Regions from separate parts of the Homo sapiens genome. Here region 1 is linked to region 2. The links come from fine-mapping of genetic effects on gene expression. A gene starts in region 2. The other region holds a variant in brackets. All regions are shown on one strand. Distances are from middle to middle.

The links. PIP is the estimated chance that this variant, and not a neighbour inherited with it, causes the effect.
Region 1: its variant is fine-mapped to the expression of CPTP in whole blood (TOPMed, PIP 0.93).

What each region holds. Positions count from the first base shown.
Region 1 is chr1:1,281,262-1,285,261 of GRCh38, reverse strand. SCNN1D (sodium channel epithelial 1 subunit delta) reads right to left here. Exons shown (of 18, transcript NM_001130413.4): 2 at 3,965-4,000; 3 at 3,652-3,851; 4 at 2,947-3,020; 5 at 1,172-1,284. Among named protein-coding and RNA genes, the nearest start is that of SCNN1D, 2.8 kb to the right of the region's middle. RefSeq lists a silencer at 1,902-2,102. The variant G/A (reference allele first, on the strand shown) is at 1,842.
Region 2 is chr1:1,322,670-1,327,172 of GRCh38, reverse strand. CPTP (ceramide-1-phosphate transfer protein) reads right to left here and starts at 2,371. Exons shown (of 3, transcript NM_001029885.2): 1 at 2,071-2,371; 2 at 141-337. The coding sequence starts at 262. It overlaps INTS11 (integrator complex subunit 11), which reads left to right and starts at 2,513. Exons shown (of 17, transcript NM_017871.6): 1 at 2,513-2,592. The coding sequence starts at 2,565. RefSeq lists silencers at 1,915-2,414, 2,595-2,724 and an enhancer at 3,543-4,052.

The sequences.
Region 1 (4,000 bases), 42 kb after region 2:
CAGGCCTAGCTCTGGTCTGCGAGGCTGTCCCGCTGCCCAAGCCTGCTCCGAGGTACTCTGGGGAGGTGCTAGAGCGAGCCAGAAGCTTCGGGGCCTGGGGACACCAGGTGGGGACGGCTCCCCTCGGGTGTGTGGGCCGCACAGGCCTCCAGGCAGCCTGGCCAGGAGCTCCACCACTGGGCACATGGCTCTGCTCACCCTGCGTCCCCAAGGCCATCTGAGCAGGGAGGCTAAGAGGCTCGGAAGGGTCTTTGTGACTCCAGTCCCCACTCCTCGTCTCCACCTGGCGCATAGACAGGGCAGCACCATCCCCCTAGTGGGGGCTGCCAGGCCAGCAGAAGCGGGAGCTGTGGATTGGGGTCTGGAGGGCCAGTCAGGGTCCCCAGGGCTTCTGAGTGAGGCAGGGCCTGGACCCCTGGTCAGAGAGGAGCCGGACCCCACCCTGCATGTGCGCGTGTGTGTGAGACAGGACTACACTGGCCTCTCCACCCTGTCTGGATCTGCGTCGTGCCATGTGGCCAACCCACGGGATGCACAGCGCCTGGACACGCAGTATCTGCAGTGTTCTCCCGGGGTCTGTCCAGCACACGCTATGCACCCCCAATGGTCCAGCACACACTGTGCACCCCCAGTGGTCCAGCACACGCTCGGCACCCCCCGTGGTCCAGCACACGCTCGGCACCCCCCGTGGTCCAGCACACGCTGTGCACCCCCCGTGGTCCAGCACACGCTCGGCACCCCCAGTGGTCCAGCACACACTATGTACCCGCAATGGGACACAGCCTTCTTCAGGATAAGGAGGCACTCAGGGATGACCTGCCCCATTGCCACCATGCAATCCTGTTCCTGATGGCACACGGGGCCAGGCATCGGAAAGAGACCCCCCAACCCAGCCCCTGGTACCTCAAGGTGGGAGCCCCCCCGCCAGCCCCACCCCCCCACCCCTACCCCCCACCCCAATCCCCCCACGGTACCTCGAGGCGGGTCCCCCCAACCCCAACCACCACCTTGGTACCTTGAGGTGGGGCCCCCCAACCCCAACCCCCTCATCCAACCCCCCCAACCCCCTCACCCAACCCCCCCAACCCCCCCACCCCCCTCACTCAACCCCCCCCCCGACCCCACCCCCCTCACCCAACCCCCCCACCCCCCTCACCCCCCCCCACGGTACCTGGAGGTGAGAGCCCCCCCGTGTGGCTGCTTCCATTCTCCCGTCCATGCTTCGGTGCTCAGCCATTGCGGGGGCAGCTGGCAGCTCTGAAGCAGGATGGAGCCTCTGGCCTCCTATTTAAAACAGGCTGGCTGGGCGTGGGACTGTGCTGCAGGCGAGGGAGGACCCAGCCAGGGCAGCCACACCTGCCCCGGACCCAAAAGGGGAATTCCTGGGGGACAGAGATGCCCATCCCTCTGCAGGTGAAATCTTTCCCATCCTGAGCCCTGCAGGGGAGGCCTGGGGTCCTGACCCTGGCTGAGAGTAAGGGGCTGCAGCCTGTGGAGGGAGGGGGAGGACAGTGTTGGGCTGAGACCTCCTTGGAAGCCCCATCTTTCTTTCTTTCTTTTCTTGAGATGGAGTCTCACTCTTGTTGCCCAGGTTGGAGTGCAATGGCACGATCTAGGCTCACTGCAAGCTCCACCTCCCGAGTTGAAGCAATTCTCCTGCTTCAGCCTCCTGAGTAGCTGGGATTACGGGCACCTGCCACCATCCCAGGCTAATTTTGTATTTTTAGTAGAGATGGGGTTTCTCCATGCTGCTCAGGCTGGTCTCAAACTCCCAACCTCAGGTGATCCGCCCGCCTTAGCCTCCCGAAGTGCTAGGATTACAGGCGTGAGCCACCGTGCCC[G/A]GCCCAGAAGCCCCATCTTTCTCTGCCAGCTCCTGGAACTCAGATCCGGGGCCGTGGTGGGCTCCCAGCACTCCCTCCCTTCCCTGGCTGACAGACACTGGGTGGGGACCTCAGCTCCCAGATCCAGTGTCTCTCGGGACCAGCCGCCCAGCCATTGGGACAGGTGCTAATGTGGGAACACCAAGGGTCTGGGTGTGGAGAAGGCACCTGCTCCCCCGAGTAGGCACAGGGGCTCGCCCTCCCTGCTGGACACTATAGCTGCCACCAACCACACCACACACTAAGATGACGCGCCACACACTAAGACTTTCAGTCCACACCCACACCACACACACCAAGATGCTGGCACACATGGAAGTGACTCACGACCACCAGGCGCGGTGGCTCACGCCTGTAATCTCAGCACTTTGGGAGGCCGAGGCGGGCGGATCACAAGGTCAGGAGTTTGAGACCATCCTGCCTAACACGGTGAAACCCCGTCTCTACTAAAAATACAAAAAATTAGGTGGGCGCGGTGGCAGGCACCTGTAGTCCCAGCTACTGGGGAGGCTGAGGCAGGAGAATGGTGTGAACCCAGGAGGCGGAGCTTGCAGTGAGCCGAGATCGTGCCACTGCACTCCAGCCTGGGCGACAGAGCAAGACTCCGTCTCAAAAAAAAAAAAAAGAAAGTGATTCACAACACACTAAGACCCCACACATGCTAAGACCACACACGTATGCTAATACCTCACACACGCTACGACCTCACACACACTAAGACCACACACGCTAAGACCTCACACATGCTAAGACCACATGCTACTGTCAGGGTCCAAATCACAGTCTCCCAGGCTGGCGTCTTCAGCCCCAGTGCGGTTGTGTGGAAGGCAGGTGTCCCTGTCCCCCAGGACCACCCCATCCCTGTCTACTGTGGGACCCTAGATATCCAGGTGGCCTCACTGTCCCAAATGACCAGACCCGAGCCGGGCCCAGGTTGGAAGGGTAGGCTCTGTGTTCCTGACATCCTGCCCCAAGTGGTGCTGGGTCCCTGGGCTTGGCTGGGGGAGCCCAGCCCCACAGGGTCCAGCAGCAGAGCCATGGCTCTGAGGAGGGTGAGGTCACCTGCCTGCCGGCTCTGGAAGGAAGCAGCTGCCACCGGTGACGTCCTGGAGAGGAAAGCCATGCTGGAGTCACCCAGGCCTGTGTGAATCACAGCTTCGTCACTGGCTGTGTGGCCTTCCCGAGTTACTCAACCTCTCTGAGCTGATTTCCTTGAGTGCCAGATGGGGCTGGGGTGCCTCTCCAAGCTCGCGGCAGGGGGCTTGCTGATGTCACAGAGACCCCACAGGTCAGCGGCAGGGCCCCCGGACACAGCACAGGCCTGGGGCTTCTCCCCCACCACATCTGGGCAGCTTTGTGCGTGGGCCGCACCTGCCGAGGAGACAGGGCACACATGGCCCGGGCGGCTACTTGGCAGGCGGGGACAAGGTCCTAGGTGCTTGCCAGAGATTGTGGCTGGAAGCAGCCTGTGCCTCCCTGTGTCCCCGGGAGTGGCCTGGCAGACAGCCCAGCCTTGGTGCAGGGTGCAGAGAGAGAAAGAGCCCAGGTCCGGCCAGTGGGGCCCGGTCCAGCCAAAGGGCAGCTTGCAGGAGCAAGGCCCCCGGCTTCCTGTAGGAGGGGGAGCCCTGGCCGGGGGCAGAGCACCCCTTCCATGACCCGTATGCCCTGCAGGGCCTCAGTCAGAGCACATCTCGGCTGGATCACGCAGCTCCCGGCTCCACCCCCCTCCCCTCCTCCCGGGCAAGGCCTCTAAGGGCTGAGGTTCAGTCACCTGTCCCACACCCCTGTATCGGGCCAGAGAGTAGGCAGAGGGGGTAGCCACAGAGCACATGTCCAGCACTGGTGAATCCACATGGTCCTCCCCCTCTTCTGGGCCATCCCCTCGCTGGCCCGGTGCAGGGGGTGGGGTGGGGCGAACCCAGCTCCCGGCATGTGGGGGTCCTGTGGTCACTGCACCATGACCAGGTGAGCCTGAATGAGAGAAGGGACGGGCAGGCATCCCTGGCTCCCTTTGGGCCCATGCCTCTGCTCTCTCCCAGGAAAGACGGCCAGGCCCCATTGACCGAGCATGGCTGTGAGCTCACCTCCTTGGGCCGCTGAGGTGGCCGGGCCACAGGTAA
Region 2 (4,503 bases):
CTGCCCAGCCTGCGGGGGCTCACACCCATCTGGAAACGGGCAGCAAAGCTGGTGGGGACAGGCAGTCGGGAGGCAGATGCCACATATGGGACTCGGGCCAGGGGAGCGCCCACCTCAGGAGGCAGCCCTGGCACACGCACCTGACCAGGCCCTTCCAGCTGGCAATGTAGGGGTCCAGCAAGACCTCTTCCTTCTCATCGAGACACTGCTTGAAACTGACCAGGACGACTTTCAGATTGAAACCTGTCTCCGAGTCATCCATTTTTTGATAGGAACGGAAATACAGTAGGGCTGGGGGGCTGTGTCGCTGGGGTCAGCTTGCTCTGTGGCTCATTTTCTGTGTGTGGAGGGGAACAAAATAGCTGCGATCCCATTGCCGCTCACTGAACACTCATGCCCCTCATGGAGCTTCCTCCCAGGAGCTGCCTGGCTCTGCTCCCAGCCAAGCCGCAGGCTCTCAGGCACACCACCCTGACCCACCCTTCATCAGGATTGCGCATTCAGGGACCTTGGCACAGCCCCTCCTGTGGATCAGGCCACTGACTCCGTGTCAGTCCCTGACCCCGAGAGTGGCCCCCTCTGGCTTTATCAGACCACTAGGCCCCGCTGTCTGCAGCAGGTGTCTCTGCTGGTGCTTTCTTGTTTTTGTTTCTCTCTCTAGATGCTGTATCTGCTTTTACCAGCTGGAGAAATACTAAGCCCCTGCCGAGAGCCAAGCACCATCCTAGCCATCTATCTGGGTGCATGGGGAGTGCGAGCAGCCATCTGGGGTGGGGTCAGATGACAACAAAGACAGGAAGTTCTGAAGTCCTAGACAAGAAAACAGACACAGCAGAAAGCAGAGACAGGTGGGGCCGGGGGTGGGGGGATGCTGCCGGGCAGGCTGCCCCATCTTCCTCACTGCTACATCCCCAAAAGCAGAAAAGAGGCTGTAGGGCTGGCACTTGCTGGATGGATGGACACGTGTTTTCACTCCTGTTGCTGAAACTCCATGTCCCACACAGATGGGTTTTACCACTCAGAAGATTGCCACGAGGCTCTTGTACTAGCCCTAGGGAGCCTTCCACGAGTGGCCCAGGCCCTGCTTTGGATTCTGCTGGCATTCACATAGTCACTCCACAGATCCACAGACATCCAGGCACCCATGCTTTGTGTGAGTGTTGCCAAGCACCCTTGCCCTGTCTCCCCGGGTGCCCCACGGGCCCGCACCTGCTCTGGGGAACCTGAGAGTCAGCTGCATTCCACCTCGACCAGGAAGAGGGCCTGGGGGTTCCTAGGCCGGTTGGTGCTGGGAGCCCTGTCCTGGCCTCCCTGGCTGCAGGGACTCCATCGGTGGGGGAGGGGGAAGGGCACCCAGCCGTGGTGAGAGCTCCTGGCCAGGAGCAGGTGGGCAGGTTGCTCAGCACCCTAGGACTGGGCCCTTCATCACTAGGGATCATGGGCTGCAAGCCCTGCCCAGCCCGTGGCCCAGGCTGCTGGAGCACTGGTGCCTGCAGGGTGCTGAAGCCTGGCGTTGCAGGCCCCACAGGTTGGGTTGCATGCTTGGCACCAGGCGGAGGCCCCAGATGTGAGCTCACCGGGCTTCAGGTGTGGGGGATGGCTGCTCCTGGGCCTCAGAAAGATGCAGTCCCATAGACTTCCAGCACGCCCCTCCCCTCCTCGGGCCTTAATTTTGTCCACTGAGAAGATGGTCTCTGAGGCTCTGGGGTTTCCTTCTTGGTCACCAGATATTCTGCGGGCCTTGCCTTCCTGCCCAGATTCGAGCCAGTGGCAAACAGAAGCTGCCAGGAGCTTCTCAGAGCTGTGGCTGGTGGCTCGGTAACAACAGGAAGGGCAGTGGCTGTGCAGGAGGCAGGCAGCTTGCCAGCCCAGGAAGGTGACCCAGGACACCTCCAGGCCTTTCCCAGGGCAGCCCAACGGCCCAAGGTCAGGGCCGGGCGCGAGGGCGGCCTGAGCACAGAGCACGGGGGCTGACAGCAGGCTGGGGGGCCAGCAGGAGACGGGGCCCCACGGCGCCCCAGGCCTTGTGGGTGGGACCAGACCCTGTCGAGCGAGCGCTACGAGTCTCACCTGGGAAGGGGGCTTCAGATGGCACCGGACTGGATGGGCACCGGTTCGGGTCCCTGCTCCACCGAGAGGCCCAGGAAGGGGCGGAGGCCCGGGGTGGTGTTGGGGAGGGGCCGACCTGAGCCACGGCTCCGTCCTGCGCGGGAGCCGGGTCCTCGGCCGCCCGCCCGCTCCGGCCCTCTAGGACGACGTCCCCTCCCGCTCCCGGCCCCTCGGCGACTTCCGGACCGTGCGGGTTGGGTTGGGCAGGTGCGGCCGCCGAGTCCGAGCCGCTCACCTAGGCCGTAGCCGCCGTGCGGGCCCCGTCCCCGCCCACCGCCCCGCCCTCGCCCCGCCCTCGCCCGCCGCCCTGATTGGTTGGATGCTGCCCAATCAGGAGGCCCGGCGCCCCGACCCGCGTTTCCGGCTAGCGCACCGGAAGTTGCAGCGAGGTGGTTGCGCCTGCGCAGTGCATCACCGCAGGCGGGCCTCGCGGGTCCGGGAGCGCGGCGGAGACGATGCCTGAGATCAGAGTCACGCCCTTGGGTGAGTGGGAGCCGCCGGGAGGGCTGTGGGGTGGGCTCCGTATGCGGCTCCGGGCGGGCTGGGCGCCCCGCTCCCTCCCGTTTCTCGTGGAGCCAGGTGCGCGCCGCGGGCGTCCTCCGGTCTCCTCCCCGCGCGGGCCCTGGTGGGAGCCGAGAGGCGGCCTAGTCCCTGCACCCCGGGCCTCCGGCAGTGACGCGAGAACGCGAGCCCCGAGGTTCAGGCGGCCGTGAGGGGACGTCGCAGATGGGGCCGCGGGGCCTTCGCGCTCGCTGTGCGCTTTCGTCGGTGCCTTGACCTCCCCGTGCCGCGCGCTGCCGCCTCCAGCCCTACCAGCCCTTCAGTCCCTTAGCCCCTCAGCCCCGCAGACCCTCAGCCCCCCAGCTCCCCAGCCTCTCAGCCTCCCAGCCCCTCAGCCCCCCAGCCCCTCAGCCCCCCAGCCCCCCAGCCCCTCAGCCCCGCAGACCCTCAGCCCCCCAGCTCCCCAGCCTCTCAGCCTCCCAGCCCCTCAGCCCCTCAGTCCCTCAGCCCCCCAGCCCCCCAGCGCTCCAGTCCCCCAGACCCTCAGCCCAGCAGACCCTCAGTCCCCCAGCCCCTCAGTCCCCCAGCCCCTCAGCCCAGCAGACCCCCAGACCCTCAGCCCCCCAGCCCCTCAGCCCCCCAGTCCCCCAGCCCCCAAGCCCCTTAACCCCGCAAGCCCCTCAGCCCCCCAGCCCCGCTTCTGCCTCCTCACGTCTTGCTTTCTGTCCACCACTCTGTGTGCTCACGCCCGAGTTACAATCAACTCTCACTTTAGCTCTTGTTCTACCTGATTTCTGCAACACTGAAAAAAATAGCAAAAAACGCAAATATGTACTCCTAAAAGTCCTGACAGTCTGGGCACTGTGGCTCACGCCTGCAATCACAGCACTTTGGAAGGCAGAGGTGGGAGGATCGCTTGAGCCCAGGAGTTCAAGACCAACCTAGCCAACATGGCAAGACCCCATCACTCCAAAAAAAAAAAATGCTAAAATTGGCAGGGCGTGGTGGTGTGTGCCTGTGGTTCAAGCTACTTGGGAGGCTGAGTTGTGAGGATTGCTTGAGCCCAGGAGGTTGAGGCTGCAGTGAGCCATGATTGTGCCACTGCACTCCAGCCTGGGTGACAGCAAAACCATGTCTCAAAAGAAAGTCAAAGTCGTAACAGTATAGAACGATGTGAAGAAGGAAAAAATTAGTCAAAATCCAGGGTCTCAGAAACAGCTGGAGGGACATGGTGTTGGTGGCCAGTCATCCTGATGTCCTTAGCGTTTTCCACAGGTGCCTGCCCTGTGCTGTCCTGGAACCTGGTCCTTCCACCGGGCAGGGGGTCGAGGGCACCTTCCAGCACAGACACCAGGACGGGATTCCATGTCCTCCCCCATGGCGTGAGCGCTTCCTCGGAGGGTGCCCCCCGCCCCGGTGTGGACACTGTGCTGTGAACACCCCTGGCCTGTGCACACCCCATGGCATTTTGCAGCTGTTTGCATGGGCCCCACTGCCCTCCCCTGCTCTCTGGGTCCTCCGTGGGGTCCTCCCAGCCTGCCCCTTTCCCATTTGGCCTCTTGGCTGCCTGTTCTGCCCACTCTCTGGACATCTGATCTTTCTGATCTTTCATGTGGCTTCAATTACCCGCAATCTGTACCTGGGTATATTCTCAAGGTCACCTCAGCCAAGGTATCATCAAAGCCGAAGTCCTGTTTCACCGCTTCCCTGCACCAGGGACTGCCTCGGGCTCCGTGTCCGCGCTCACTGGACCACTGCTGTGTCCTTGGGGTCACTCCCACGCCTTGGCCTGTGTGTGGCTACCCCCCCCGCCGCCGGTCCCCCTACCCACCCTGCCCATCCCTCCCCACCGCCGGTCCCCCCACCCACCCTGCCCGTCCCTCCCCCTGCTGG